Linked DNA regions of Homo sapiens: all the other regions are linked to region 4. The links come from fine-mapping of genetic effects on gene expression. A gene starts in region 4. Each other region holds a variant in brackets. All regions are shown on one strand. Distances are from middle to middle. Region 1 holds the start of LOC124904170 (a long non-coding RNA gene). Region 2 overlaps EIF2B3 (eukaryotic translation initiation factor 2B subunit gamma). Region 3 holds the start of RNU5F-1 (RNA, U5F small nuclear 1). Region 4 holds the start of ARMH1 (armadillo like helical domain containing 1). Region 5 holds the start of RNU5D-1 (RNA, U5D small nuclear 1). Region 6 overlaps KIF2C (kinesin family member 2C). Region 7 overlaps LOC124904169 (a long non-coding RNA gene).

Region 1 (4,249 bases), 500 kb before region 4:
TCTTTACTCACCACAGGTCAGGAATGCTGTACAGGGGCTGTGTAGACAAGGTATGAGGCCAGTTTTCTCAAGGTGCTTTTATTGGCTCTATAAGTCAAGTTTAATTCTTTAAAGGAAAGCATATCATTCCAGTCAAAGCCTTGATAAAATAAACAGTTCCTCCAATTATGTCCTGTTACAAAACAAAACAAAACAAAACAGATTCTTATTGCACTTATGCAAATAACTATATTGTCATAAGTTAAGAATACTCACAGTTTCCAAATTCTGAAGAAATCAGATAGAGATAAACAAATATGTTCCAAATTTTGTTTACAGGAGTGTGTTTAAGAAAATTTTTCTTGACTCTGAAAAACAAAACGAAGGATCAGCAACATTTTAAGCAAAAAGTCAAAAAGGATTACTTCAGTCTTCTGCTAGCTCAGTCCATGCAGTTAACTCCTGTTCTGTTTGATGTTCATGAATATTTCAGCTCTCCATGAGAGTCCTGAAAGTTTTTTTCCTTTGTTCTAATGTCACAATTTCCAAAGTTATTAGAAACCTGCATTCAAGAGCACCTATCAAAGTCCTATTGCTAATTACAAACCACCTTTTGAAGAGGATCAAAACAAGACAACAATTGTCTGTGGATGACAAAAAGTCATAAGACAGCCATTATTAAAACCACAATTGGGCCAGGAGCAGTGGCTCACACCTGTAATCCCAGCACTTTGGGAGGCCAAGGCAGGTGGATCACGAGGTCAAGAGATCCAGACCATCCTGGCCAACATGGCGAAACCCTGTCTCTACTAAAAATACAAAGAAATTAGCCAAGTGTGGTGGCACACGCCTATAGTCCCAGCTATTCGGGAGGCTGAGGCAGGAGAATTGCTATAACCTGGGAGGTGGAGGTTGCAGTGAGCTGAGATCATGCCACTGCAGTCCAGCCTGGGTGACAGAGTGAGACTCTGTCTCAAAAAAAAAAAAAAAAAAAAAAAAAACACAATTGACTAGGAATTTTGGTTACTTACTTCTATAGCATTGAACAATTTTATGTAACAATTATAATTATTAATAATAACATACACTAAGTCATATCAGAATTATAGGAGTTTCCCATAGTTTTGGAATACATACCAATAACATTTATACAAATATAGTCCAAAGAATACTAAACAGCATTTCATATTTGACAAGGCTTCTTGTATGATTTTTATACCAAATAAGCTGAATATGTCTCTTTTGGACATCAGGGGGCTAATATCAAAAAATTAATGAGAACCCAAGTTAGAATTTGACTTTGGAAAGTTGGTCAAATATAAAAAATTTAAAATGCTTGATATAACAAATAGGATCACAGGCCATTATAAAATAAGTCATTCATTTAACTGAACTGATAACTCAAAGATTTTTTTAAAAAGGTGAAAACCATTATTCTTTGAGAGAGGAGACTTAATTTCCCAAACAATAAGCCCTAATAAAAATAGCATGAGGCTGATTACATTTGTTTTTCAAAATTTTATAAACAACCTATACAATTTTAATTATCTTGACCATAATATATAATTTCCATAAGCCTTTTATAACTTTTATACTTTTTATTAAGGAATGGGTTAATGCTCCAAGAAAACCTTGTTAATCTGACACAGGGGCTCATATACTGGTCTTGCATCAGTGTGCCTTTGACATTAATGGTTTATTTATAGAGAACTTGAACTTATTTTATCTCTCAAAATCGGCCCTTACAATCTCATGTGCCCATCTCTTCTGTGATAGTACCTGAATCTTGAGGAGTTGAATAGTTTTAATTTGTGGCCCTGAGTCTCACGAACGCAGTTTATTTTGATTGGCATCTTCTACCAGGCTTGAAGATGAGGATTTAATTGCTGTTAGTGTTTAAGATTTAGAAGGACTTGGTGTCTTTTTCAGACCCAGAAGTCAAAGCCCTGTAACTTAATGGCACAAGGACTTTAAAAGTACATACAAGGCCAGGCGCAGTGGCTCATGCCTGTAATCCCAGCACTTTGGGAGGCTGAGGCAGGTAGAGGTCGGGAGTTTGAGACCAGCCTGACCAACATGGAGAAACCCCATCTCTACTAAAAATACAAAATTAGCCAGCCATGGTGGCACATGCCTGTAATCCCAGCTACTAGGGAGGCTGAGGCAGGAGAATCACTTGAACCTGGGAGGTGGAGGTTGCGGTGAGCTGACATTGTGCCATTGCACTCCAGGCCCAGGCAACAAGAG[C/T]GAAACTCTGTCTCAGAAAAAAAAAAAAAAAACATACAGAAAGATATACTGATGTAATAAACTTAATTAAAAAAATTTTTTTAATCTCAGTTTTTTTCCTAAGCATACCAAAACTTTATAGTAGTGGTATAGGAATTGTTTTGATAAAATATAAAATCTGTTGGACCAGTTACTAAAATGCAAAAGAAAAGACCTTCTGCAGTGCACAAAATATTATATTGGAAGAAAACATTTCCTTTAGACTTTTAAGAAAACATTTTTAGCATCAGGCACAACAAACAGAACCCAAGGCAAAAAATATTTATATGAGCTGAAAATGAGTTGAAGGAGAACATTATTATTTTGCGCATTTTAAAAAGGGAAAGGAAACCAAAAATGGTGAGACGTAATAAAAGTTGAACTTTGGGTTAAAAAAAATTAAAGTCTCAAATAATTTATTAAGAGTAAATGAATCCCTAAAGAAAATTTCATTGTTCTAAACAATTCTCGGCTGGGTGCAGTGGCTCGTGCCTGTAATCCCAGCACTTTGGGAGGCCAAGATGGGCGGATCACAAGGTCAGGAGATCAAGACCATCCTGGCTAACATGGTGAAACCCTGTCTCTACTAAAAATACAAAAAACTAGCTGGGCGTGGTGGTGGGCACCTGTAGTCCCAGCTACTCGGGAGGCTGAGGCAGGAGAATGGCATGAAGCTGGGAGGCGGAGCTTACAGTGAGCCGAGATTGCACCACAGCACTCCAGCCTGGGCAGCAGAGTGAGACTCTGTCTCAAGAAAATAAATTTAAAAATACATAAATAAATAAATAAACAAGTCTTTAGTGTATATGTGTTTTTTTTTAAACATCAAGACCCCATCTCTAGAAAAACTATTATAAATAATTTCTCTTTAATTATAGACAACTTGACACAAATCATTTATGACATGCTTGGACTTCCTGTTTTATCCTAGATATCCTTCTTTCTTAAATAACCAATTATTTTATTTTAGGACAAAAATTTACCATGTAAGATTCTTTCCCATAGAAAATTATTTTTCTTTTAACATTTCTTGCCCAAAATACCTCTTTATGTTTTTAACTTTCTTTACATTGTTCTTATTCATTGATTACCTTTACCTAATTTCTTAAGTAACTCTTAAATACCCTTTGAATTAGATAAAAATTATTTTCCTTTAAATAAGAGCACCTTTCTTTTTTTTTAAGAAAAAATGTTTTCCTATAATTAAAAAAATTGGAAATAGCCCAGACATTTAATGAATATCTATTATTTAGCTTAATATAACTTTAGACTTTAAATTATATGATAAGATTATCTACAAGCATATATTCCATTTACCTAAGTAATTTTTAAAAAATAGTTTACTCAGTTTACTTACTAAAACTGTGATAGTTATAATTTAAAGATATTTCCTTGTTAACCATTTTTATGACCTGTGAATTTCAGCTTTTCATGAGTAAGAAATTTAAGGTTAAATAGATGGGTTTGTTTTTTTGCCAATAATTCAGGATTTAGCTGTTTTCATTAACCAAACAATATTAACTATGTTATTTATTACATTGCCCATAAACAAAGAAAATTCTCTTTTGAGCTGCATTCACAGCTTTATAACCCTCATGCCAAATTTTGACATCTAGCAGAGATAAATAATGTATGTTGACAATTCCAAAGCCATTTCTATTTCACCAAAAATTTTAAAACCAATTTATTTATTAAAGTTTACTTAAGTCTTGTGAACTTGAAAAAGCATTTGGTTTAAAGTCTCTCTTTTTTTGATAAAGTATTTGATTTAAGTGCTTTTTTAAGCCAATTAATTAGAGCTCCTTTATACATTTTTAGTACTAAAACATCATATGCATGACACATACATATATAGATATATTAACCACCAAATAGAAGTCAATCTTACAGACTCACAAGTCCTCTATTTTTTTCTCCTATTTTAGACTTTCAATTTCTTGATAACCTATTTTATTACCCTAGGCAATTGTCAGCTAGACAGCCCTAAATTTGCATATTAAAGGAA
Region 2 (4,249 bases), 210 kb after region 4:
AGGCAAAATGGTCTAGTGAGGAACACAGCCAAACCAGAGCTATGAATCAGAGAATGGGGCTGGAGGCATGATTAGCCTGTTGCCGAGAGCACAGTGGCAGAATCTGCCTGAGCAAGCTTACCCAGAGCTCAGTGGGTTGGCAAGCCTGTCTTGCCTCGTAGGCTAGAAATAGTCTGCTGCCTTGAGTCAGGCATCTTGGGCTGGGCTAAGCTGCCCAACCACTCTTTCCAAAGGTGCTGCTACCCTTGCCCCTCTTACTGAACCAACCCAAGAACTGACCTAAGGACTTCAGCTCCTTTTTCTTTAGATCCTCCTCTTTTTCTTCTTGTCCCTGTTGTGAGGAAGCTGAGGAAAACTGTTTTCTCACTAAATATGGAATCAGTTCACTCCGGATAGAAGTTATTGACCTAGAAAGAAAGAATGGCCAAATATGAGAAACCTGACTGTCTGGAACATACCCGGATCAAAAGCTCTGTGCATACAAGGAAAAGCCAAATCCTTTCCTGTCATGGCACCTTGGGACTGTCAGAGATCAAATGTGGCATTGACTTGGCAGTTCGGAGAAGCAGAGTGCTTCCTGGTGGGTACTGAGACAGGATGTTGGGTCTAAGTGATCAGGAATCTGTACTAGGGGAAGAAGGGACCTGATCTTTAGTTCAGTGTGTGTTTTTTATTTATGTTTTTATTTATACTTAGCAATGGAAAGCAGAGAGATGAGAAACTAGCACATGTTTTTCAGTGTTCTCTCACACTGTGACCTTATTAGAATTTTATATTGCTAATTAATTTATGTAGCATTTACCAAGCATATGCGAGTTACTGTGCTAGGCCTTGGAAATACATCATTTCTGACTTCAAGGAATTCATAATCCAATGGACAGTAGCCTGTATGAGTTTAAGAGGAAAAGCAGAAGGTTAAGCTAATCAGGTAGGCAAGGGGGCCAGATCACGAAAGCTTTTTGTGGTGAAACCACCTTTGCAAAAATAACAGTGACAAAATTATGACAGTGAAAGAAATCTGACCTAATCAACTCCATCTTGCTGTTAACCTCCAAATTGCTCTTGCTCATTCCTGGACATAGGCTGAGCTAACTTTGGGAGAAAACTTTTTTTTTTTTTTTTCTGAGACAGGGTCTCACTCTGTCTGTTGCCCAGGCTGGAGTACAGTGGTGCGATCTCAGCTCACTGCAACCTTTGCCTCCCAGGTTCAAGTGATTCTCCCACCTCAGCCTCCTGAGTGGCTGGAAAGCTGGGATTACAGGTGTGAGAGCCACATGCCTGGCTAATTTTTTTTTTTTTTTTGAGACAGTCTTGCTCTATCGCCCAGGCTGGAGTGCAGTGGCATGATCTCAGCTCACTGCAACCTCTGCCTCCTGGGTTCAAGTGATTCTTGTGCTCCAGCCTCCCAAGTAGCTGGGACTACAGGCACATGCCACAATGCCTGGCTGTTTTTGTATTTTTTGGTAGGGATGGGGTTTTGCCATGTTGGCCAAGCTGGTCTCAAACTCCTGGCCTCAAGTGATCCGCCTGCTGCAGCCTCTTAAAGTGCTGGGATTACAGGCATGAGCCACTGTGCCTGACTTTTTTTTCTTTTTCTTTTTTTTTTTTTTTTTTTGAGATGGAGTCTCGCTCTGTGGCCCAGGCTGGAGTGTAGCGGTGCGATCTTGGCTTATCGCAACCTCCACCTCCCAGTTCAAGTGATTCTCCTGCCTCAGCCACCCAAGTAGCTGGGATTACAGGCGCCGGCCACCATGCCTGGCTAATTTTTGTATTTTGAGTAGAGATGGTGTCTCGTCATGTTGACCATCCTGAGGTCAGGAGTCTTGAACTCCTGACCTCAGGTGATCCGCTTGCTCCGGCCTCTCAACATGCTAGGATTACAGGTGTGAGCCACCATGCCTAGCCAGAAATTTATTACAGTTTATAGTTTAAATGATAATAGCCCTTCTCAAAATGAAACTGCCTTTATAAAACTAATAAAAGCGTACAAATTTAGGATTACAAGAGGGGCCTGAATTCTCATGATTACCAATCATTTTTCCAAAGGTCACAAGATTTGCAACTTCCCCAGTTACTCCTGTAAGTAACATCACTATTGTTGAACCTAAGATTGGCTTTTTAAGATGTCTTTTCTGACTTTTGCATTTCTGATGACTGGATGACTCCACTGGGACCAGTGACCCCTCTGTGGCCCCCATCCAAAACTGGGCTCAGCAGAGGACTG[G/T]TTTCCACACCCCTATGATTGCATCCCCAACCAATCAGCAGCACTCATTCCCTAGACCCCTGCCCACCAAACCATCCTTGAAAAACCCTAGCCTCAGAATTCTGGGGGAGGCTGATTTGAGTAATAATAAAATTCTGGTTTCCCGTTTAGCTGCCTCTATGTGTATTAAACTCTTTATTGCAATTCTCCCATCTTGATAAATCGTCTCTATCTCGGCAGCAGGTAAGATGAACCCACTGAGGAGTTACAGTAGCAGTCTAGAAAGTCTGGACTGAGAAGCCAGTGGTAATTTTTCCTTGTTAGACGGGGTCTTGCTCTGCTGCCCAGGCTGGAGTGCAGTGGTGCAATCACAACTCACTGCAGTCTTGACTACCTGGGCTCAAGTGATCCTCCTGCCTTGGCCTCCCAAGTAGCTGGGACCACAGGCATGTGCCACCATGCCCAGCTAATTTTTTTATTATTTGTAGAGGCAAAGTCTCACTATGTTGCCCAGGCTGGTCTTGAACTCCTGGACTCAAGCAGTCCTCCCACCTCAGCCTCCCAAAGTGCCGGGATTACAGGTGTGAGCCACCGCACCTGGCTGCCAGTGGTAGTTTTTAAGCAAGAAAGTGACATGAACAGTTTTATCTCTTATTAAGGTAATTCTGGTAGCAATGTGGAAGAAAGCCTGGAATAAGGAAACTGAAGAAAGGGAGACCAGTTACAATATTCTGAGAGATGAGATAATGAGGCCTGAGAGAGGGGTGAAAGTATGGGCAGCTCTATAAACCTGACTTGCTGCATACTTCCCACCACCTCTCCCAGCCCCCATTCAAAGCTCTGCATGCTGACACAAAACCAAACAGATGGAGTGTAGGTAGAAAGGAAGGCAAGACAGAGGCAGAGGCTGAGGAGGGTAAGGAAAACTATGAACCCTGGAGCTACACAGTTCATAGTTTCTGCAATTTTTAAAGAATCAATTTTGAAAAATTCTGTGTTAAGCTGTGAGCTCTTGTATTGAATTTCAATGTGATTTTTCTCCTGATCCTTTGATGAAGATTTAAAAATTTCCATGTGAATACAAAGAATGAAGCAACACTTACTCTTAGCTCTTTTTCTCCCCTTTTAATGCTTCAAACCAGTGTAGGCAGCAAATGTTCCTCCTCCATTGGAAAACAAGTCAGTTCCCTTTGAAGAAGTGACAAAGCACGGACAGCTAGGGGATTTCAGGGCCATGATATTTACATTACAGACCAAAAAGAACTGTCACTGCAAGAGGCAAGCAGACGAGCCTTGGCACATGGCCCCATCAGGCAGAACCTTCGAGAGGATCCATGATTTGAAGAGAGGCTATGAAACAGCCCTGCCAGGTCCCACCCACCTCTGCTGGAGCTCAACATTAGGTCAATCCCCATGATGCAGTTGACTTAGAAACATAATGAAGGAAACAATTACTCTTCCTGCTTCCTAGTTAAAGTGCAGGCAGCTCAGAGCTGTGCCAAGAAATGTTACAAAGCTACAGTGAACCATTGTGAACATCCTGGGCCTAGGCCACTTGCTGGATACAGTGCCCTGGTCAACCTTACTTTCTCCTTTCCCTCTTATACACAGCCTTCCTAGAAACACCTGTCTTATCTCATGAAATCATAAGCTCTTCTCAAGCAATCACAAAGGAGAACAATAGACTTGACTACTAGCAAACAATCCCACCAAATAAAAAGACAAAATAATTGCTATGAATAGGGCAAAGAATATTCTTAATAAACAGATATGTGTTAAAAAAACATATAAAATATTTTCAAAGAAGTAAAAAACTAAAATAAGATGCAATTTCTCCTCCAACTAAATTAACTGATTCAAAACAATTTTCATTACTGATAAGAGTGCTTTGAGAACCGTTACTGTCACATAATGGGAGTCGGAGTATAAACTGATAAAATCTCTGAAAAATAATTGGCAACATTATAGCAAAAGACTTGAAGATATTCATATAATTTCACCCTGTAATTCCATTTCTATAAGTCTATCCTAAGGAAAATATATTAC
Region 3 (4,249 bases), 47 kb after region 4:
CTTTCCATGCCTTTCCTTAGATTGACACACCAGCCAAAACTCATTCTCTTCTTCCTGCCGAAGGGCACTCTGAGCCCTGGAGTGGAGAAGTCAGCTCCCCATCCCTCCGCCGGTGTTTTCAGCACCCAGGAGAGCTGAGCATGCAGCCTGCAGCACACAGGATGTGGCTGCTCCCTCTGCCTTCCCAGACCACTGCTCTTTTGGAAATCATCAATGATAGTTTTCTGACAAAGTTAGAAATCGCCAGCATGTGTTCCTTTTTAGGCAGCATATGTCTGTTTGGAGTTAAACAAGTAAAGTTTGCAGGAGCTGAAGCAGAGACCTGTTCTGTGTGCTCTGTAAATCCACGCAGTCCACATCTCTGACCATCTCACCAGGTGCCCTGTGTCTCCCACTGTGAGAAGGACCACACTCTTCCCCTTTCTGTTGTGCCTGGGTTGTATGATATGAGCATCCATAGAGTGGTGCCCAGTTCTGGGGTGGCCAAGAAGTATAAGGTCCTGGCTTCAAAGCACTCTCAAAGTTGGCCATGGGGCCAGGTGCAGTGGCTCACGCCTGTAATCCCAACACTTTGGGAGGCCAAGGTGGGTGGATCACCTGAGGACAGGAGTTAGAGACCAGCCTGGCCAACATGGTGAAACCCCGTCTCTACTAAAAATACAAAAAAATTAGGCAGGTGTGGTGGCGGGCGCCTATAATCCTAGCTACTTGGGAGGCTGAGGCAGGAGAATTGCTTGAATCCATGAGGCAGAGGTTGCAGTGAGCCAAGATCGTGCCATTGCACTCCAGCCTGGGCAACAAGAGCAAAACTCTGTCTCAAAAAAAAAAAAAAAAAAAAAAAGTTGGCCATGGGGTATACGGGGAGACAGCTGCCACAGTTCTGGCTCTCCAGCCTGTCCAAGATTCAAGCTAGGAAAGTTCTGTAGCTGTGTGAATGAGGACCACAGTGGCCACTGCAGAGCCTCCTCTGGGGTCATCCACCACCAGGCTGGTGGTTTCTAAGCGTGGTCCTAGGCTGCCATGACCCAAGCCTCGCCTGTTGGAATGCAGAATCCAATGAGGTCTTTTCAACAAGATGTATGGAGCATGCATTGTGTACATGGAATGGTTTCAGGCTCTAGGTAAACAGAAGTGAGATGTGTCAGATATGTTCATTGGAGTTCACACACTAGTGAGGAGACCATTTAGTGGATAGTACTAGAATTCTATAGCAAGAATTCTATACGGTGCTACGGGTTCAGAGACATAGGACATCTACTCCTGAGTGAAGAGTGAAGGCAGAGGAGAGCAGGCCAGGGGCAGCTTCCTGAAAGTTGATTTCTCAGCTGAGCCTAGAAGAATGAGTAGCAATAGCCAGATAAAGAAGACTTCTCAGGCCGGGCGTGGTGGCTCACACCTGTAATCCCAGCACTTTCGGAGGCCAAGGCAGGTGGATCACTTGAGGTCAGGAGTTCAAGACCAGCCTGGCCAACATAGTGAAACCCTGTCTCTACTAAAAAATACAAAAATTAGCCAGGCGTGGTGGTGCGCACCTGTAATCCCAGCTACTCGGGAGGCTGAGGCAGGAGAATCCCTTGAACCCAGGAGGTGGAAGCTGCAGTGAGCCGAGATCGTACCACTGTACTCCAGCCTGGGTGACAGAGTGAAACTCCATCTCAAAACAAAACAAAACAAAAAAAGGGCAAAAGAAAGAGAAGGCACTGAGATTCTGCTCTCGGTGGGAAGTCTGATACCTCTAGCATACATACTTTAAGTTGGACCCCAGAAGACAGTACCCTCAAGGTCAAGGTGGGCCAAAAGTAAGCCGGCCCTCAGGTGGTCTTGTATGGATTATATAACTACCAGGTGGTCCAGAGAACCTCAAGTGTTGAATGTGGACAAAGGTAGTCCAGAATTGTTTGTGTCCCCAGGTACCTGATAAAAACAAAAGAAAACTATCTCTGGAAGAAAGTATCATCATCCTAACTCTTAAGTTTTTCCTACACTTAATTTTTCAAATATGAGACCAGTCCAAAGTATAAGATAATCATGCACACAAAGTCATCACTATAAATTGGAACTAGCACACTAGAAAGACTCACAAGACTTCAGCCAAATTATTAGATACAGACTGTCAAAAACTAGGTTTTCTTTTAAAAAAAAAAATCTTATAAACATTTAGCTTCCTAAATGTTTACAAGAAGCTAAAAAAACATGACAGTAGGCCGGGCACTACAAAAAGTACACAAAATTAGACAGGCTTATGAGGCTGAGGTGGGAGGATTGCTTGAGCATGGGAGATGGAGGTTGTAGTGAGCCGCGACCACACCACTCCGCTACAACCTGGGTGACATTTGTGGAGCTACCCCAACCTCCCAAAGCATGAAACACCCCA[C/T]CCACACGTCTCTCTTTAGTAACAGAACATTCAGCCTTGCCTAGGCAAGACTTCAAAAAATTTAACCATAAACTCATAGTTGTTTTTCTCCACGGAAATCTTTAGTAAAAGGCGAAAGATTTATTCGTTATGAAGAGAAACCAGAGATCTGCCTGTTAGCCTTTTGCCTGGCTTCCCAGCTATTGACTGGTCTCCCTCTACTTACGGTGCCTTTGGACCTGCAGACAGAAGCTTTTCTTCCACTGTAGAAAAGTGTCCTAAACATGTTCTCACTGGGTAAAATCTCCTGACAAAGAAAAAAAGTTTAAATATTATTATTCAAACAGATAACCCTGGTAATAATTCTCGTATCTACAATGCATTCTGGGATGCAAATGAGCTGAGCGCCGGAACAAGAGTTCCTCTAAACCCTCTCTCTCTTACCAGTAAATGGAGAGAGGCACTTGACTACTGAGCTGGGGAGAGCACATGGCCAAGTCCTGTCTTCCATGTAGCCACATGTGTTCAGAGTAGCAGTGCCCGGTGCACAGTGACTCACACCTGTAATCCCTGCACTTAAGGAGGCAGAGGTAGGAGGATCGCTTGAGCCCAGGAGTTCAAGACCAGCCTGGACGACAGAGTAAGACCTTGTCTCAGAAAAAAAATAAAATTTAAATTTAAAAAAAAGTCCAGGCGTGGTGGCTCATGCCTGTAATCCCAGCACTTTGGGAGGCCGAGGCAGGAGTTCTCGGTCACTTTGGGAGCACTTTGGGAGGCCTGAGCACTTTGGGAGGCCTGAGGTCAGGAGTTCAAGACCAGCCTTGCCAACATGGTGAAACCCTGTCTCTACTAAATACAAAAATCAGCCGGGCGTGGTGGCAGACGCCTGTAATCCCAGCTTCCCAGGAGGCTGAGGCAGGAGTATCGCTTGAACCCGGGAGGCAGAGGTTGCAGTGAGCGATTGCACTCCAGCCTGAGTGATGACAGTGAAACTCCGTCTCAAAAAAACAAACAAACAAAAATACTAGCATTTACTGGCTGGGCCCACCGGGCCCAGTGGCTCATGCCTGCTATCCCAGCACTTTGGGAGGCCGAGGCGCGTGGATCACGAGGTCAGAAGTTCAAGACCAGCCTGGCCAAGATGGTGAAACCCCATCTCTACTAAAAATACAAAAAAAAAAAAAAAAAAAAATTAGCCGGGTGTGGTGGCGGGCGCCTGTAATCCCAGCCTACTCGGGAGGCTGAGGCAGGAGAATTGCTTGAACCCAGGAGGCGGAGGTTGCAGTGAGCCGAGATCGCGCCACTGCACTCCAGCCTGGGCGACAGAGTGAGGCTCTGTCTCAAAAAAAAAAAAAAGGTAGCATTTATGCTGGTGTGCCATCATCTTAGCATCTCCTTCTCCTCCTGCCCCCTCTAGCTCTGTGGTTCCTTTCTCTTCTTTACAAAAACATTCAATCCTTGCCGATTTTCTCTTGTGCTCCCACAGCCCAATCACTGACTCCTTCCACAGCACCTGTCACCATATCATCGCTGCCTGTTTGTGCACGCTTAAGGAGGGTTGGTCGAATGAATGAATTCAGTCTGTATCCTCAACACCCAATGCCGCGCCTGGCACCATAGGCGTTCACATGCAGCCGTGCCGAAAGACTGAGTGAATGCTGGACTGAATGAATGACTGCCTGTAAAATATCTACAGGAAAGCCCTGCAGGAAATGCCCTCCATAAATTCTAGTCCCCTTCTCCTTCCTAACCAAATCCTCCCCTCCTTCTGCTTCCATCACTTCCTAGCTGTGTAACTTAGGCAAAGTGGTTTACCTCTCTGTGTCTAATTTCGGCAAAGGTAAAATGGGGAAGTGAACCTCATCTGGTTCTGGTGAGCTTCCACGGGTGCTGTAT
Region 4 (4,249 bases):
TCACTCCCCTCCCCAAAACCTCAGCTCCTTGGGCGTGTGAGTCACTTCTGAGTGGCCAACAACGATCCCACAGCCAGGACACAGCAAATACTGAACTGAGAGCGGAAATTACAGGAAGGCCTATTGTGGCTCAAGAAAGGGAAGTGCTTTCTAACAATCCCAGCTGCCTCCAACAGGCTAGAATGTTTGGGCAGAAGCATCGCCCCAGGGAAGGGTCTGCTAGCAATGGAATGCACTCATGCCAACAGAGGGAGGCAGGACAAAACAGTCTCTGAGATTTCTTCCAATTCTAAGACCCAGCCTCCTGGAGCAGCAAAGGGAGCCATGGGATCCGCCACTGCACTCCGGCCTGGGCGACAGGGGAGACTCCATCTCTTAAAAAAAAAAAAAGAAAGGGGGGCTGAGGGGGAACCACAGGGGAGCAATGCAATGGCAGCACCTGCACTGTGCCAGGGACACACATCCAAACGCTACCTCGTAACCCTCGCAATCCCACGAGGAGGTAGGCACTAGTACTCTTCCCATTTCACAGTGGAGGAATCTCAGGCTCAGGGAGGTTCAATAGCTTGCCAAAGACATATAACTTGTAAGACATGGAGCTGAAATGTGAACCAGGACCACGAGGCTGCCCTCCTGGCCGTGCAGAAGGCAGCTCCAACCCTTTGCAGCCGAAGACTCTCCAAAGGAAATAATATTAACTGACTTCATGGCTTGCTGACGCCAAAACGTGTCCAAAGTATTTTTACATCTATAAACCCAAAAGCGCTAAGCCAGCAGATCCAGTTCTAGGGAAAAACAGCTGGTCTGGGGCCATCTGTTCTGCGGGAGTCTAAGGGCTGCCCTCTCCTAGACTCCAACCAAAGAACATGAGATGCTACGGGAGGGATCTGGGAAGGCTCTCCTTAAGGAGGTAAGTTTTATGGAGAGCAGAGTATAAGATCAAACCTTTGCATTAGAAAGATCACTGTGGTAGCAGTTTAAGAGGCTGGGCTGCAGGCAGTGAGACAGGAGGCGTGAAGGCGATGCTGGACTAATGCAAGTGAGGGACACGCTGGCCTCAGGCTGATCATACTTCAAGGCCCTTCTGCCAGAATTCCCAGAGAGACCAAACTTTCCACTCTCTGGACCCCGATCTACTCACACTGTCATGGATGCGGGCCTGCTGTCAATCCTAATTTTGTGGAGAATCCTACATGTCTTTCTTTAATGTAAGGAGAGAAACAATGCTGATCGTAAATGCCAATTACTGAACTCACTCCATGCCAGGCCCTTTACACAATCTCCAGATGGCCCCAACAGCCCTATGAGGAAGGTTACTATCCTTATCCCGGTTTTGCAGAGGAGGAAACTGAAGTTCAGAGAAGGTAGCTTACCAAAGGTAATCCAGCTCCTAAAGGAAGGAGTCAGGATTTCAGTCGAGTTCTACCCGACGGCAGAGACTGCACTGTTAACCACTGCCGAGAAGAGTGGAGAGGGACGGCTAAGGGTTCTGAGTCCCGGGCTTCTGCGAGGATCGGTGACCCCGCGAGCCTCCCCCTCCACGCCTTCGGGAAAATAATAAGTGATAGGCTAGATGTGGGAAGCCCAATCCCAAACAAAGGAATCAGGAGGGATCCAGCTTTCGGCAGCCTTCAGCTATGAGAAGTGATTAAAGGGCATGGACCTGAGCACCCCGGACAGGAAAGACAGAAAAAGAGGTCCCAAGCGAGCAGCTGACTCGGGCAGAGGCGGGGCTCGCCAGGGAGGAACACTCTGGGGCGGGACTTACGAGGGGCGGGGCTCTCTGAGCCTCTCTAAGTCTAGGACCTGCCAGACCCTATGAGGGGGCGGCCCGAGGGAGGGCGGGGCCGCATGAGGGGCGGGGCTACAGCTGCGCTCGCAACCCACAGGTTCATGAGGTCACCTCCCCGCGCCTGGACCCAACCCTCATTCCATACTCTGGCTCCAGCAGGGCTGATCCGGGATCTCGATGGTGTAGTCCAGCTCTGCCGAGGCCATGGTGAAGGCGCCGGCCCAGAGCACGGGTCTCCAGCCGGAACTCCCGCTTGCGCACCCGTGCCTCACCCGGGCGCCTCCTGGGCGCCGCCCAATCACCACACACCTCCCCCAACACGGCCCAATCCCTGCGCCGCGCTCTGTGACCTCCCGCCTTAGCAACCACCGAGTCTCTTCCAGAGCCTCTCGCCTCACCCCACTAGCTCGGCCCTAGCAACCATGCCCCGCCCCTATTACTGACCCGCAGCCATTGGCTAATTCGCTTGATCTGGATCAGGTATTGGTCAGCCGGGGCGCCGGTCAGGAAGAGTCCCCACCCTCTCATGTAGGTGAGAGGCGGCTGAAGAGTTGCTGTATTCTGGGAATGGGCAGGGTCACTCGTCCGAACAGAGTCCTATCCTACGCGGCGGAAGAGTGTGCCCTTTGACTTGCATCGTCTACCTACCTCTGCCATCCTCTACCAGCCGCAACTGCGAGGGCTGGAGGTATAAAACCGTACAAAACGGCCTAGGGGGCGCGTGCCGACCCAACCTCCACCCAGTGGGGTTGAGGCATATTCTGGATGGATGGATGGATGGATGGATGGATGGGTGGATGGGAAGCAGTCTTCAGTTGATGACTTTAGAGAATGCCCTGTTGATAGGGCCCACCGAGGAGCTGGGAGTGCAACTTTCTTGCATTTATCTATATTTACATACTATGTGCCAGCATATTTACATACTATGTGCCAGAGACTGGGTGGGCTAAATAAGGTTCCTTAGGCCCTAGTGAGAATCAAGCTTTTGGCCCTCCCTCTCCCATGTCTTAACGGGAGAGGGAGAGAAACCATGCATGAAGCAACTCTGATTCTGCGTGTGAGATAAATACTACAGAAGAGTAAGGATTTGAGGAGCTCAGAATCAGAGAAGGGGCATTTATGGCAGTGGGGTTGGCTCTTGAGCTGGGCCTTGAAAGACTTTTAGAGATAGGGAGGGGGAAAGACTCTTTGCATGCCAGGCGCGGTGGCTCAAACTCGTAATCCCAGCACTTTGGAAGGCCAAGACGGGAGAATGGCTTGAAGGAGTTCAAGACCAGCCTGGGCAACATAGTGAGACCTTCATCTCTACAAAATTAAAATTTTAAAAATTAGCCAGGCATGGTAGCGCATGCCTGAAGTCCCAGCTACTTGGAAAGCTGAGGTGGGAGGATCACTTGAGTCAGGAGGTCAAAGCTGCAGTAAGCCATGATTGTGCCACTGCACTCCAGCCTGGGTGACAGAGTGAGACCCTGTCTCAAAAAACAAAACAAAGAGCCCAGTGTGGTGTCTCACCCCTGTAATCCCAGCACTTTGGGAGGCTGAGGCGGGCGTATCACTTCAGGTCAGGAGTTCGAGACCAGCCTGGCCAACATGGCGAAACCCCATCTCTACTAAAAATACAAAAATTAGCCGGGCATGGTGGTGCACACCTGTAATCCCAGCTACTTGGGAGGCTGAGGCAGGAGAATGGCTTGAACCTGGGAGGTAGAGGTGGCAGTGAGCCGAGATTGCTCCACTGCACTCCAGCCTGGGTGACAGAGCGCGACTCTGTCTCAAAAAAAAAGAAACATTAGTGCAGGAACTGGATTGAGGATTGGGAGAAGGAGGGAGACCAGTTAGGAGGTTGTTTCAGTAGTGGGGAAGGATTATGGTGGCACAAAGCATGGAGTGGCAGCTGAAATGGAAAGGGCAGGATGAATTCCTTAGACACTTATAGCTAGAAAAAAATGGACTTGGTTACTAATTGGGTGTGGGGGAAGTAAGGGAAATGAAGGATGACTTCTAGATTCCTGGTTTGGGCAAACAGGAAGGAGAGGAAGCAGGGGTTTTTAGGAGAGGGTCAGTTCTGGGCACGGTGAGCTTGGGGTGCCAATGGAACATCCAAGTGGAGGTATCCAGAAGGCCATTGGATATGCCTAACTGGAGTTCGCCAGATAAGTCTAACTGGAAGTTGCAGTGTGGGAGTCTATGGGGCCTTATAGATGCCAGCCACACCAATAGATTTGTTGAGCTTGCCCAGGGAGTAAGTGTAGAGTCAGAAGAGACCTAGGACAGAGCCCTGAGAAACACCCAAGTTTGAGGGTCTGGCAAAGGAGGACGAACCTGCAAAGGTAATCAAGATGAAGTGTCCAAAATGGTAAGAAGATCAGTAGTAGTATGTGGTGTTTCAGAAGCCAAGGAAGGAAAGTGTTGAAGGCTTATGACTAATCAAGTAAAATAAGGCCTGAAAGAATCCAC
Region 5 (4,249 bases), 57 kb after region 4:
GCCACTGCACTCCATCCAGCCTGGGCGACAGAGCAAGACGCCGTCTCAAAAAAAGAAAAAGAAAAAAAGAAATTGGCAAACAAGCTCTTGTCTCAACGCTATTGTACTGACTGTTCACTCTGCCTAGAACTTCATCCCATATATCCACAGGGCTCACTCCCCCATCTCCCTTCAACTCTACAAGAAGGCCTACTCTTTTTAAAATTGCAATGCACACTACCATTCTCTATACTCACCACCTCCCCTCCCACCTTACTCTGCTATTTTTTTCCATAGCATTACCTTATTATGTTTATTAATAGTATGTCCTCCATCTGACTGTAAACTCCACGAGGACAGGGATACTGTTAGGACAATACCTGGCATGCATGAATCAGTGACTGAGGTATTGTGAGGGAATAGTCCCTCCAAGTCGGAGGAAATGAAGTCAGATGGCAGTAATTCTCCAGGATGCCACAAGAGGGCATCACCAGCCCTGACATTGTTGGTCTAAGGCAGTTCTGCTTTCCCCACTTATTTTGAGCCTCAGCTTTCCTCTTTTTGTACCTACAAAGGAGAGAAAAGTTAACAAAATATATTTATGTTTTGTTGTTATGTTTTCTTTAAAGCTAAATGGATTTCCTATTTTATTTTTGCTGATTTTATTTATTTATTTATTTATTTATTTATTTTTGAGACGGAGTCTCGCTCTTTTGCCAGGCTGGAGTGCAGTGACGCAGTCTCGGCTCACTGCAACCTCCGCCTCCCGGGTTCAAGAGATTCTCCTGCCTCAGCCTCCCAAGTAGCTGGGATTACAGGCATGCGCTACCACGCCCGGCTAATTTTTGTATTTTTAGTAGAGATGGGGTTTCACCATGTTGGCCAGGCTGGTCTTGAACTCCTGACCTTGTGATCCACCCGCATCGGCCTCCCAAAGTGCTGGGATTACAGGCGTGAGCCACCACGCCTGGCCTTATTTTTTTATTTTATTTTATTTTATTTTATTTTATTTATTTTATTTTATTTTTGGGGACGGAGTCTCACTCTGTCTCCCAGGCTGGAGTGCAGTGGCGCAATCTCGGCTCACTGCAACCTCCGCCTCCTGGGTTCAAGCGATTCTCTGCCTCAGCCTCCCAAGTAGCTGGGATTACAGGCGCCTGCCGCCATGCCCACGCCCAGCTAATTTTTGTGTTTTTAGTAAAGACGGGATATCATCATGTTGGCCAGGCTAGTCTTGAACTCCTAACCTCAAGTGATCCACCCGCCTTGGCCTCCCAAAGTGCTGGGATTACAGGTGTGAGCCACCGCGTCCACCGCGTCAGGCTGAGAGATCAAGTCATTTTTAGTTTTTAGTCTTTTTTTTCTTTTTATTTTTGGTCATTGTTTGGTTTTAGTTTTTAGTCTTGAAATGTTTTCTTTTGTATAATGGTAAAAAAATAGTACCCCAGAACTTTTTCGGAAATTTTAATAATTGGGAAATCCAAAAATCTAGGAACCACTGGGCTAAAGTGATCATAATTTAAAAAAAAAAAAAACCCTTTAAAAACTAAACTGGCCAAGCGGGAAGCGGTGGCTCACGGGAGGTTGAGGTGGGTGGATCACTTGAGGCCAGGAGTTTAAGGCCGCAGTGAGCTATAATCGTGCCACTGCACTCCAGACTGAGTGACACAGTGAGACCGTTTCTAGAATAAATTAATTAAAAACAAAACAAAACAAAACCACAAAACAAAACCAAATTTTCGCACGGTGGCTCATGCTTGTAATCCCAGCACTTTGGGAGGCCAAGGCGGGCAGATCAGCCTGGCCAATGTGGGAAATCCCCATCTCTATTAAAATACAAAAACTAACAGGGAATGGTGTTGCCACCTGTAGCCCCAGCTACTTGAGAGACTGAAGCAGGA[A/G]AATCCCTTGAAGCCGGCAGGCAAAGATTGCTCACTACAGTCTAGTCTAAAACCCCACTTCCAAAAAAATAAAAAACGCACACTCACACCATTACAACAGCCCAAAATAAATGTTCAAACAAAATGTTGTCTCACACCTCGCAACAAACACACAACTTTCTATCTGATTTTTAAACACCGTTGATGAACCCCACCAACATAGGGCTTCAAAAAATTTGCTTGAAACTCAAAACGGTTTCTCTCCACGGAAATCTTTAGTAAAAGGCGAAAGATTTATACGATTTGAAGAGAAACCAGAGCATGTGTTGGAATGGTTGCACACAGTCCTCGGGGGACGGTCACTACTAGATTAGCAATGGTTACTATTAACCCAAAAGAGTGACTTCTGTTTTTGTCTCAGACGATTGTGTGAAAGGAGCTTCGTTATTATGGTAAAGGAAAAGAGGGGGAAAAAAGGGAGAATCTCCTTTTAAAGTAGGACGTGGTCTGTGTGCAGTGCATTGTGGGTATGTAAATGACGCTGAGTCACCACCCCCTCGGTTTCCAGAAATACCTTAAATAGTTCGTTACTTTTTCTAGGCGTTAGGCCACCACCAGGGGGCAGAGCGGAAGCCAGATTTACAGAACTGTAGATGCCTGGTCCAACTAGACAGTGACTTTATTTTATAATTGGCACTTAAAGTAAAAAAAAAAAAAATTAAAAGCTTTAAAATAATTGTATTCATAGGCCTGGCGCGGTGGCTCACGCCTGTAATCCCAGCACTTTGGGAGGCCGAGGCGGGCGGATCACGAGGTCAGGAGATCGAGACCATCCTGGCCAACATGGTGAAACCCCGTCTCTACTAAAAATACAAAAATTAGCTGGGCGTTGTGGCGTTCGCATGTAGTCACAGCTACTTGGGAGGCTGAGACAGGAGAATTGCTTGAACCCAGGAGGCGGAGGCTGCAATGAGCCGAGACTGCACCACTGCACTCCAGCCTGGGCAACAGGAGACTCCACCTCAAAAGAAAAGAAAAGAAAACCACATCATAGCAAATACTGAATTTTGTATCATCCCTCTGCCTTCCACAGTATGTAACAAAGACTCCAAAAAGAGTAGCTTGAACAAGCAAGAAGTTTATTTTCACCTTACCTGAAGGAAGCCCGGAGAAGAAATTCTGAGTTGTTACAGAGGTGTCAGGGCTTAGAACATGATACCCCAACATATGGCACCTTGGCATACTGAGTATTTTAAGCCATCAAAGAAACTGAGAAAACTATATAAGCAGGAAGTTATTTTTGACCTTTTCCTTCTCTTCTCCCATGAAGACCTTCGTGTGACCAGTGTCCTGCCTTATGCCCACAGGGAATGAATGTCACACAGAGGCCAAGAATAATCTGAACAAACAGGCTTTGCCAAGTACCCCCCCCACCCATCCAGTTTATTACCATTCGATCATACACTTTTTTTTTTTTTAAAGAGTCTCGCTCTGTCCCCCAGGCTGGAGTCCAGTGGCGCGATCTCTGCTCACTGCAAGCTCCGCCTCCCGGGTTCATGCCATTCTCCTGCCTCAGCCTCCTGAGTAGCTGGGACTCAGGCGCCTACCACCACGCCTGGCTAATTTTTTGTATTTTTAGTAGAGATGGGAGTTTCACTCTGTCAGCCAGGATGGTCTCAATCTCCTGACCTCGTGATCTGCCCGCCTTGGCCTCTCAGAGTGCTGGGATTACAGGCGTGAGCCACTGCGCCTGGCATTTTTTTTTTTTTTTTTTTTTGAGACAGTGTCTTGCTCTGTGTCCCAGGCTGGAGTGCAGTGGTGCAATCGAGGGCCACTGAAGTCTTGAACTCCTGGGATCAAGCAGTCCTCCTGCCTCAGCCTCCCAAGTAGCTAGGACTACAGAAGCATACTACCACAGCTGGCTAATTTTTAAATTTTTTGTAGAGATGACATCTTGCTATGCTGCCCAGGCTGGTCTTGAACTTCTGACCTCAAGCAATCCTCCTGCCTTGGCCTCCCAAAGTGCTGGGGTTACAGGCATGAGCCACTGCACCTGGCCAGAAAATTTTTGATCATTCCTTTATTAGCTATTAAAGCAAATGGAATGATAAAACATTTACTAAATATTCTAAAATTTACTAAAAATTTTACTAAAAATGTACTAAATTTTCTTGTGCCAGTTTTGACATTTTTGACTTTTTTTTTCTAGAAATGTAGAAACTTATTCACACAACAAGAAGTATGGAGACAGGTGGATCAGGAGGTCAGGAGATCAAGACCATCCTGGCTAACATGGTGAAACCCCATCTCTACTAAAAATATAAAAAATTACCTGGGCATGGTGGCACACGCCTGTAATCCCAGCTACTTGGGAGAATTGCTTGAACCCG
Region 6 (4,249 bases), 72 kb after region 4:
CTCTGGGAAGCTGAAGCGGGCGGATCATGAGGTCAGGAGTTCAAGACCAGCCTGGCCAATATAGTGAACCTGCATCTCTACTAAAAATCCAAAAACTTAGCCGGATGTGGTGGTGCGCACCTGTAGTCCCAGCTACTCAGGAGGCTGAGGCGGAAGAATCGCTTGAACCCGGGAGGTGGAGGTTGCAGCGAGCTGAGATCGCGCCATTGCACTCCAGCAGCCTGGGCGACAGAGTGAGATTCCGTCTAAAAAAGGCCGGGCGTGGTGGCTCATGCCTGTAATCCCAGCACTTTGGGAGGCTGAGGTGGACGGATCACCTGAGGTCAGGAGCTCAAGACCAGCCTGGCCAACGTGGTAAAACCCTGTCTCTACTAAAAATACAAAATTAGCTGGACATGGTGGCGCATGCCTGTAATCTCAGCTACTCAGGAGGCTGAGGCAGGAGAATCACTTGAACCTGGGAGGCGGAGGTTCCAGTGAGCCGAGATCATGCCACTGCACTCCAGCCTGGGCACCAAGAGTGAAACTCCATCTCAAAAAAAAAAAAAAACCTCTGGTTTTCTTTGTTGTTTATGCTCTCTGTAGTTTAGGGGTTAGAAATGGGGGAGGTATGTACCAAGAGTCTGTGGCTGTCCCAGAAGTGTGGATAGAAGTGTGATTACTGAAGTGCTTGCCAGCTTTTGCATTTAGTGATTCTATCCTCCTTTTTTTTTTTTTATTTAAATCTCATTCTGCTTTGATTTCCTTTGTACATATGACTTATAATCCCCATTAGAAATTGAGCTCATGGTGGCAGGGGTTGTATATGTCTTTTTTTTTTTTTTTTTTTTTTTTTTGAGACAGTGTTTCGCTCTTGTTGCCCAGGCTGGAGTGTGATGGCGCTATCTTGGCTTACTGCAACCTCCGCCTCCCGGGTTCAAGCGATTCTTCTGCCTCAGCCTCCCGAGTAGCTGAGATTACAGGCATGCATCACACCTGGCTAATTTTTTATTTTTAGTAGAGACGGGGTTTTTCCATGTTGGTCAGGCTGGTCTTGAACTCCCGACCTCAGGTGATCTGCCTGTCTCAGCCTCCCAAAGTGCTGGGATTACAGACGTGAGCCACCACGCCCGGCCTATATATGTCTTAATTCATCTTTGACTACCTTCCCCCTGTAGGCTGCTGTCTTCGTGGTGCCTAACAAATGTTTGAATAGGCAGCAAATAACTGCAGATTTCTTTTTTCTTTTTCTTTTTTTTTTGAGACGGAGTCTCGCTGTGTCGCCCAGGCTGGAGTGCAGTGGCGGGATCTCGGCTCACTGCAAGCTCCGCCTCCTGGGTTCACGCCATTCTCCTGCCTCAGGCTCCTGAGTAGCTGGGATTACAGGTGCACGCTGCCACACCCAGCCAACTTTTTGTATTTTAGTAGAGACAGGGGTTTCACCGTGTTGCCCAGGCTGGCCTTGAACTCCTGAGGTCAGGTAATCCGCCCACCTCGGCCTCCCAAAGTGCTGGGGTTACAGGCGTGAGCCACCGCACCCAGTCCTGCAGGTTTCATCTCTAGGCAGTAAAGCCCTCACCCTAGAGTACATGCTTCAGCTCTGTCACATTTTGAAATACAAAGTTGGGACAAATTTAATATGTCTGAACCTGTTGTAAAGCTATCCTGGTGAAGTTTGAGTTGTTCCTGGAGAATTGCAGGACTCTGATGATGTAAACTTAGAATTGTGACCTCATTGCAGGCATCAACAGGAAATAGGTAAGGCATGGGCAGGAAGCCGTAACTGGGGAAGTTTCTGGGCCCAGAAGAAAA[T/C]GTAGGTAGTCTTAGGGTTAGGTAGCAGCTGTCAGGAACTTGCCCCTGCCCATAAGATCCTAAAGGGCCCCCATTTGACTCTCACCAGACAGTTAGAACTTGTTTCCTCCTCCGTGTCAGCCATCAAGAGGTGCTTGGGGGGCTGTGCCCAGCAGGACCTCACTGCCCAGCAGATCAGCAGGGGAGCCAAGTGGCCTAGATCTGCTGTGGAGTACCCGACTGTTTGCCTGCCTGTCTGCCCTCCTCTTCACCTCATTCTCATCACTGACGTCTACCATTGGCTTGGAAATCAGAAACCCATATCCATCTAGATGGTAAACCATTATTAAGGAGTAACTATTTGTTTTATAGCTATTCATACTTAGTGGAACTTAAAGTTGGTAAAGTTTGAATTTAGGGGTACCCCTGTCTATAGAAATTTAATTTTTTCTATGTTGTTTTTTTGTTTGTTTGTTTGTTTTTTGTTTTTTGAGACAGAGTCTTGCTCTGTTGCCCAGGCTGGAGGGCAGTGGCTCAATCTCAGCTCAATGCAACCTCCGCCTCCTGGATTCCAGCAATTCTCCCGCCTCAGCCTCGGGGGGGCCAGGCACAGTGGCTCACACCTGTAATCCCAGCACTTTAGGAGGCCGAGGTGGGGAGATCACCTGAGGCCAGGAGTTTGAGACCATCCTGGCCAACATGGTGAAACCCTGTCTCTACTGGAAATACAAAAATTAGCTGGGCGTGGTGGCGCATGCCTGTAGTCCCAGCTACTCAGGAGGCTGAGGCAGGAGAATTGCTTGGACCCAGGAGGCAGAGGTTGCATTGAACCAAGATCGCACCACTGCCCTCCAGCCTGGGCGACAGAGCGATACTCTGTCTCAAAAAAAAAAAAAAAGAAAAAATGTATTTGGATTGAACAATGTTGTTTCATTGAAACTTTTACTTGCTCCTTGCAGATTGATTTTGATGATGTGGCTGCAATAAACCCAGAACTCTTACAGCTTCTTCCCTTACATCCGAAGGACAATCTGCCCTTGCAGGAAAATGTAACAATCCAGGTAGGTGCCTGTCATCTGGCTGCAGCCAGTGCGCCAGAGAATTCACTTTGCTTATTGACTCTTTGCTGATTGATTGTCTGGCATTTTAGCATAGTACATGGGCCCAGGATGGGCCCTTGAGAATTGATAAGAGCCATATATTGTGACAATTTGATTTGTTTTTCAGAAACAAAAACGGAGATCCGTCAACTCCAAAATTCCTGCTCCAAAAGAAAGTAAGTGGATTTCTACTAGCTTACTATCATGGAATTTGTGTCAGGAATTATGTTTCTAGGACTCAGAGTTGTGGAAGCTCCTCTTTTGCAGGTGGTTTCTATGTGGGTTGAGTCCTGCCTGTGTTCCAAGCATCTTTCTCTATGAGAAAGAATCCAATCTACAGCTATCAGGCCAACCTTTAAGAGACCTGGTGCATTTAGGAAATTTGCTGCCTGGCCTAGAAACCTTTTCTGTAGAATCCAGAGCCTGATGCTGAGGAGAGTAGGAATCAGCCATTGGTAGGCCTTTTTTCTTCCCTCGGGGCTCAGCCCCCTCAGTGGAACAGTATGCCTTGGAAAGAGATTTTGAAAATGGGAGACACTAGGCCTGTGGGTTGTTTAGAAGTACAGTTGGTGGCGCTATAGAGAGGGATGGCTGGGGCTGGAGAGAATAACAGCATTGCCTCGTGGTCTAGGAGGTTGGGAGTCTCTCTGCAGAAGTAGTCTGTGAAAACCTACTTTGACAACATGATAGACTGTGACTCTAGGGGGTAAGCTTCCCAAAAGATCCAGCTTAAAGCCAGTTGTACCTTGAAGGCTGGTGACCTGCACAGCTCTCCAGGTCTAGGGGTCATCATTGCCCTGAAATGATTCAGCTACCTCAGGGACTCACAGAATACTTGGCTGGAGCTTCAGGTTCTGGGGGCCCTGAGTGGAAGGTGGTGCCATTGCAAGCTTGGGCCTGACTATTGTGGTGCTGGCCCTTTCTTGCTGGGTGTACCGTAAGGTCATGCAGGAGAGTTGGGACTCGCAGCAGTCCCATTCCGTGTTCATGTCCTCAAAGGATATTGCCCCAGCTTTGTTTTGTTTTGTTTTTCAAAGGCAGGGTCTCACTTGGTTGTCCATGCTGGAATACCATGATATGATCGTAGCTCACTGTAGCCTTGAACTCTTGGGCTCAGGCAATCCTCCCACCTCAGCCTCCCATGTAGCTGGGACTACAGGTGTGCCCCATCACACCTGGCTAATTTTTTTTTTTTTTTTTTTTGTAGAGACAAGGTCTCACTATGTTGCCTGGGCTGGTCTCAAACTCCTGGCCTCAAGTGATCCTCCTGCTTCAGCCTCCTAAAGTGCTAGGATTGCAGGCGCGAGCCACCATGCCCAGCCAATAGCTTTTTTTCTTTAGGATGGAGTCTCGCTTTGTTGCCTAAGCTGGTCTTGAAC
Region 7 (4,249 bases), 630 kb before region 4:
CACTCACACACACACACACACACACACACACACTCATCTAATCTTCACAACAATCCTATGAAGTAGATACTATATGTTCTTCATTTTAACAGCTCAGGAAATGGATGTGCAGAGGTTAAGTAACTGGTTCAAGTCCATGTGGCTAGTAAATAGCAAATCTAGAATCTGATCTGAGGCAGTCTGGCTTAAAAATATGCATTCTTAGCTGGGTACAGTGGCTCACGCCTGTAATCCCAGCACATTGGGAGGCCGAGAGGCAGCTGCATCACTTGAGGTCAGGAGTTCAAGACCAGCCTGGGCAATATGGTGAAACCTGGTCTCTACTAAAAATACAAAAATTAGCTAGGTGTGATGGTGTGCACCTGTAATCCCAGCTACTCAGGAGGCTGAGGCAGGAGAATCGCTTGAACCAGGGAGGCGGAGGCTGCAGTGAGCCGAGCGAGATCGTGCCACTGCACTCCAGCCTAGACAACAGAGCAAGACTCAGTCTCAAAAAAAAAAAAAAAAAAAAAAGCATTCTCTGTACTAGGCTACAGACATGTCCTTGAAAGTATTTATGCTTACTTTGTTGTTGTTGCCTCCTGTGATTAGAAAATATTATGTTTAGATATGCTTGTTTTTATTTTAAAATGTACAAGAAGAAGTAATGTTGTATTAGTCAGTAAGCTTTGGTCATAGAAATGTTTTCTTTGCAAAGGGTTGCCCATTTTTGTTTTCCTAAGATGGAGCAATTGTACTCATAGCATTGAGCCACCCATTCCTCTGAGTGGGCTAATGAGAGGTTGGTCATGAATTTTGATCTGATGACTTTGAGGAGAGAGAACCGTAAGCACTGGTCCTGGGGTAAAGGGTGGTGTGGTAGGGAGGGAGGAGGAGGACAGATGGTGGGAACCAGAAGAACCAGGTCCAGACAGGCTCCAGCCTGGTCATGAGATGGGGCTGCCATGGTTGATAAATGCTTGAGGTTTGGTTGATGATCTGAGGCCCAGTTCAACTCTTGGCTTCCCCTGGAGCATTGCTGGGGACCCGGCACAGTGACATCAACATCACTAGTAGCCCATCTGCCATCAGTCACATCCATCTTGAGGGAAAGAATGCTTAGATCGTGAGAGCATCCTGCCCTGGGACCAAGGATTTGAGAATGAGGGCACGAGTCGGGGTGCTACTTCCTTCCTTGTTCATATCACCTATTTCCTTCTTAGGTGCCTGGTACAAGGAATAATTAGATAGAAACACATGGGTAGCTTAGATAGGGAAGAGGAAGAATCCCTTAGGAGTCTACAGACGCCATACTGCAACACATTGGCATTAGAAGTAGGATTGTAGTGTCCTCTAGTGGACACTTTGTGAATTTACATAGTATTATTTACTGGATGTGGCCAATAAAGGTGGGCTGAATCCAGAAAAGGGAAGATTGGCATCCAGAGTGTTTGGAGAGTGGGCCCATAAGAGAACATTGTGTGTGTATGTGTGTGTGTGTGTGTGTGTGTGTGTGTGTGTGTGTGCACGTGCACGCACGTATGTGTTGGGGGCTGTGTAGCTTCTCCTAACTTCACCATGCAGAAGTCAAGGAAACGGTTACAGAGGCAAAATGTGGGAGTAGCTAATGGCAATGGCCCAGAGAGATGAAAAAATGTGAGAAAACCAAAGCTTGGAGGTAGGAACTTTCCGATTCTTTTGGAGTAGACTAAGGTGACTTAAGTAGGAAAAGAACGCATAGCCAGTAACTCTCCCAACAGAACTGGATTCGTGCCTGGGGTGATTCAGGATGTCCAGTTAAGCTGGGAAATACTGATTCCACTGATCCCCTTCATTCACTCAGAGCAGACCGAAGACTGTGAGACTTCCTCCCCACAGTGAGCTAAAAGGACGCTTTTGTCAGAGTGGGGAAATAAAAGGGCTTTATGGGAAGGAAGATAAGAACAGATGAGTCAGAGGTTTCTGCTTAATGGTGAGTATTTTTGTCTTAAAATGTGTGTTTTTCTTCTTTGGAGAAGGTACTGCACTCTTTTTGTGTTTTGAGCTGGAGACTTTCTTTGATATGACTGGGTTTTAAGCTAGTTGGTTACAAATGAATATTTGGGGCTTTAGAAAATATTCTTTATGTTTGGATGGGATCTCCTAAGTACATAAATAAATTGTTTTATTATTAACCTAAGTTTCTCTTGGTGAAATTTTCTGTGTGTTTGACTGGCCACAGTGTAATTTGCTTAATTTTTGAACACAGTAAGATTTATCTACAAATTAGAGGTGTTGCAAAGTTGATTTAGTTTGATAATGATTAGTTT[TCTTTG/T]TTTTTATGTGTGTACACAGTGCATTGGGTTTAATAAGCTTTTTATTGGAGTAAATCATTCGTGCAGAAAAATGCATTAATCATAAGCATATAGCTTAATGCGTCACCACAACTTGAACACATTTGTGTAAACATAACTGTCTTAGTCTGCTGGGGCTGCTATAGCAAAATGCCACAGACTGGGTGGCTTAAACAACAGACATTTATTTCTCACAATTCTGGAGCCTGGGAAGTCCAAGATCAAGGTGCTGGCGGGGTTGGGTTCTGGTGAGGGCTCTCTTCCTGGCTTGTAGATGACTGCCTTCTCACTGTGTCTTCACAGTGTAGAGAGAGCATGAGCAAGCTCTCTGGTCTCTTCTTATAAGGGCACTAATCCCATCATGAGGACCCTACCCTCATCACCGCATCTAAACCTAATTTCTTCCCAACGACCCCGTCTCCTAATCCCACCACATTTGGGATTAGGGACTCAGTGCATGAATTTGGGGGGCACACAACATTTAGTTCATAATAATAACCATCCAGTAAAGATGCCTCTCTTGTGCTACCTCCCAATCCCAGCCCTCTGCCCTCCCCAAGGTGACCACTAGCTTAACTTCTAACCACATAGAGTTTTGCCTGTTTTTGAATTTCATATAGTTAGAATTATACAGTATATATTCTTTTCTTTTTGAGAGAAGGTCTCACTCTGTCACCCAGGCTGGAGTGCAGTAGCACGATCTCAGTTCACTGCAACCTCTGCTTCCCAGGGTCAAGCAATCCTCTGAGCTCAGCCTCCTGAATAGCTGGGACTACAGGCATGTGCCACCATGCCTGGCTAATTTTTGTATTGTTTGTAGGGATGGGGTTTCACCAGGTGGTCCAGGCTGGTCTTTAACTCCTGGACTCAGAAAATCCACCCACCTTGGCCTCCCAAAGGGTTGGAATTACCAGCGTGAGCCGCCGTACCCGGCCTATGTATTGTTTTCAATCTATAAGGTTTATCTGTGCTGTTATGTATAGTAGCATGTTCATTTCCATTGTGGTATACTATTCCATTGCATGAATATATAATAATTTATCCATTTTAGCTTTTCAGTTTCAAATAATGTGTATCTTTTGGAGTAGACTAAGGTGACTTAAGTAGGAAAAGAATGCATAGCCAGTAACTCTCCCAACAGAATTGGATTCATGCCTGGGGTGATTCAGGATGTCCGGTTAAGTTGAGAAATACTGTACATCTTGGAGTACAGTTACTGTCTCCTGGCATATGCATATCTTCACCTTTAGTAGATAGCATCGCATGGTTTTATAAAGTGGTTTTACCAATTTATGCTGCCACCAGCAATGTGTGAGTTCAGCAATGATAAAAGTTATTTACACCACAGAAATTGGCAACTTTTACAAATCAGAGTTTCTTTCTTAACCAGTTGTAAAATAATTACCAGCACACCACTGCCAATGAGGTAGGAGGCAGGACTTGGACTCCGGACCAGATTGAGACTAGCTGAAAGGGGAAGAGGCAAAAGCACCTCTCCAAAAGACATGCTGACCAGTGCCATGTCAGTTTACTATTGCCATGGCAACAACTGGATACCACCCCTTTCTATGGCAGTGACCCAACAACTGGGAAGTTACCACCCTTGTTCTAGAAATTTTTGCATAATCCACCCCTAATTTGCATGTACTTAAAAGTGGGCATAAACATGACTGCCGAGCTGCCCTGAGCTGCTACTCTCTACACACTGCCTATGGGGTAGCCCTGCTGTGCAGGAGCAGTCACAGATCCCTAACACTACACTGCCTCCTCAATAAAGCTGTTTTCTTGGCCGGCCACAGTGGCTCACACCTATAATCCCACCACTTTGGGAAGCCAAGGTGGGCAGATCACTTGAGGTCAGGAGTTTGAGACCAGCCTGGCTAATATGGTGAAACTCTGTCTCTACTAAAAATACAAAAATTAGCCAGGCGTGGTGG

The links. PIP is the estimated chance that this variant, and not a neighbour inherited with it, causes the effect.
Region 1: its variant is fine-mapped to the expression of ARMH1 in nucleus accumbens (GTEx, PIP 0.97).
Region 2: its variant is fine-mapped to the expression of ARMH1 in ovary (GTEx, PIP 0.96).
Region 3: its variant is fine-mapped to the expression of ARMH1 in whole blood (TOPMed, PIP above 0.99).
Region 5: its variant is fine-mapped to the expression of ARMH1 in whole blood (TOPMed, PIP above 0.99).
Region 6: its variant is fine-mapped to the expression of ARMH1 in whole blood (TOPMed, PIP above 0.99).
Region 7: its variant is fine-mapped to the expression of ARMH1 in anterior cingulate cortex (GTEx, PIP 0.99).

Annotation. Positions count from the first base shown.
Region 1 is chr1:44,174,450-44,178,698 of GRCh38, forward strand. LOC124904170 (a long non-coding RNA gene) reads right to left here and starts at 176. Exons shown (of 2, transcript XR_007066057.1): 1 at 12-176. The variant C/T (reference allele first, on the strand shown) is at 2,227.
Region 2 is chr1:44,881,333-44,885,581 of GRCh38, forward strand. It overlaps EIF2B3 (eukaryotic translation initiation factor 2B subunit gamma), which reads right to left. Exons shown (of 12, transcript NM_020365.5): 7 at 280-407. Among named protein-coding and RNA genes, the nearest start is that of PTCH2, 40 kb to the left of the region's middle. The variant G/T (reference allele first, on the strand shown) is at 2,225.
Region 3 is chr1:44,719,380-44,723,628 of GRCh38, forward strand. All of the region lies in intron 6 of ARMH1 (armadillo like helical domain containing 1), which reads left to right. It overlaps RNU5F-1 (RNA, U5F small nuclear 1), which reads right to left and starts at 2,523; the gene lies at 2,406-2,523. It overlaps LOC105378690 (a long non-coding RNA gene), which reads right to left. Exons shown (of 5, transcript XR_007066059.1): 2 at 2,580-2,660. RefSeq lists a silencer at 4,058-4,249. The variant C/T (reference allele first, on the strand shown) is at 2,375.
Region 4 is chr1:44,672,394-44,676,642 of GRCh38, forward strand. It overlaps ARMH1 (armadillo like helical domain containing 1), which reads left to right and starts at 2,321. Exons shown (of 12, transcript NM_001145636.2): 1 at 2,321-2,480. It overlaps TMEM53 (transmembrane protein 53), which reads right to left and starts at 2,088. Exons shown (of 3, transcript NM_024587.4): 1 at 1,938-2,088. The coding sequence starts at 1,998. RefSeq lists an enhancer at 1,532-2,033 and silencers at 1,801-1,940, 2,091-2,140, 2,211-2,260.
Region 5 is chr1:44,728,989-44,733,237 of GRCh38, forward strand. It overlaps RNU5D-1 (RNA, U5D small nuclear 1), which reads right to left and starts at 2,182; the gene lies at 2,081-2,182. RefSeq lists a silencer at 352-401. The variant A/G (reference allele first, on the strand shown) is at 1,881.
Region 6 is chr1:44,744,655-44,748,903 of GRCh38, forward strand. KIF2C (kinesin family member 2C) reads left to right here. Exons shown (of 21, transcript NM_006845.4): 3 at 2,730-2,831; 4 at 2,998-3,046. Among named protein-coding and RNA genes, the nearest start is that of KIF2C, 6.9 kb to the left of the region's middle. The variant T/C (reference allele first, on the strand shown) is at 1,792.
Region 7 is chr1:44,046,536-44,050,784 of GRCh38, forward strand. All of the region lies in intron 2 of LOC124904169 (a long non-coding RNA gene), which reads right to left. It also overlaps a transcript of KLF17 not described here. Among named protein-coding and RNA genes, the nearest start is that of SLC6A9, 17 kb to the left of the region's middle. The variant TCTTTG/T (reference allele first, on the strand shown) is at 2,289.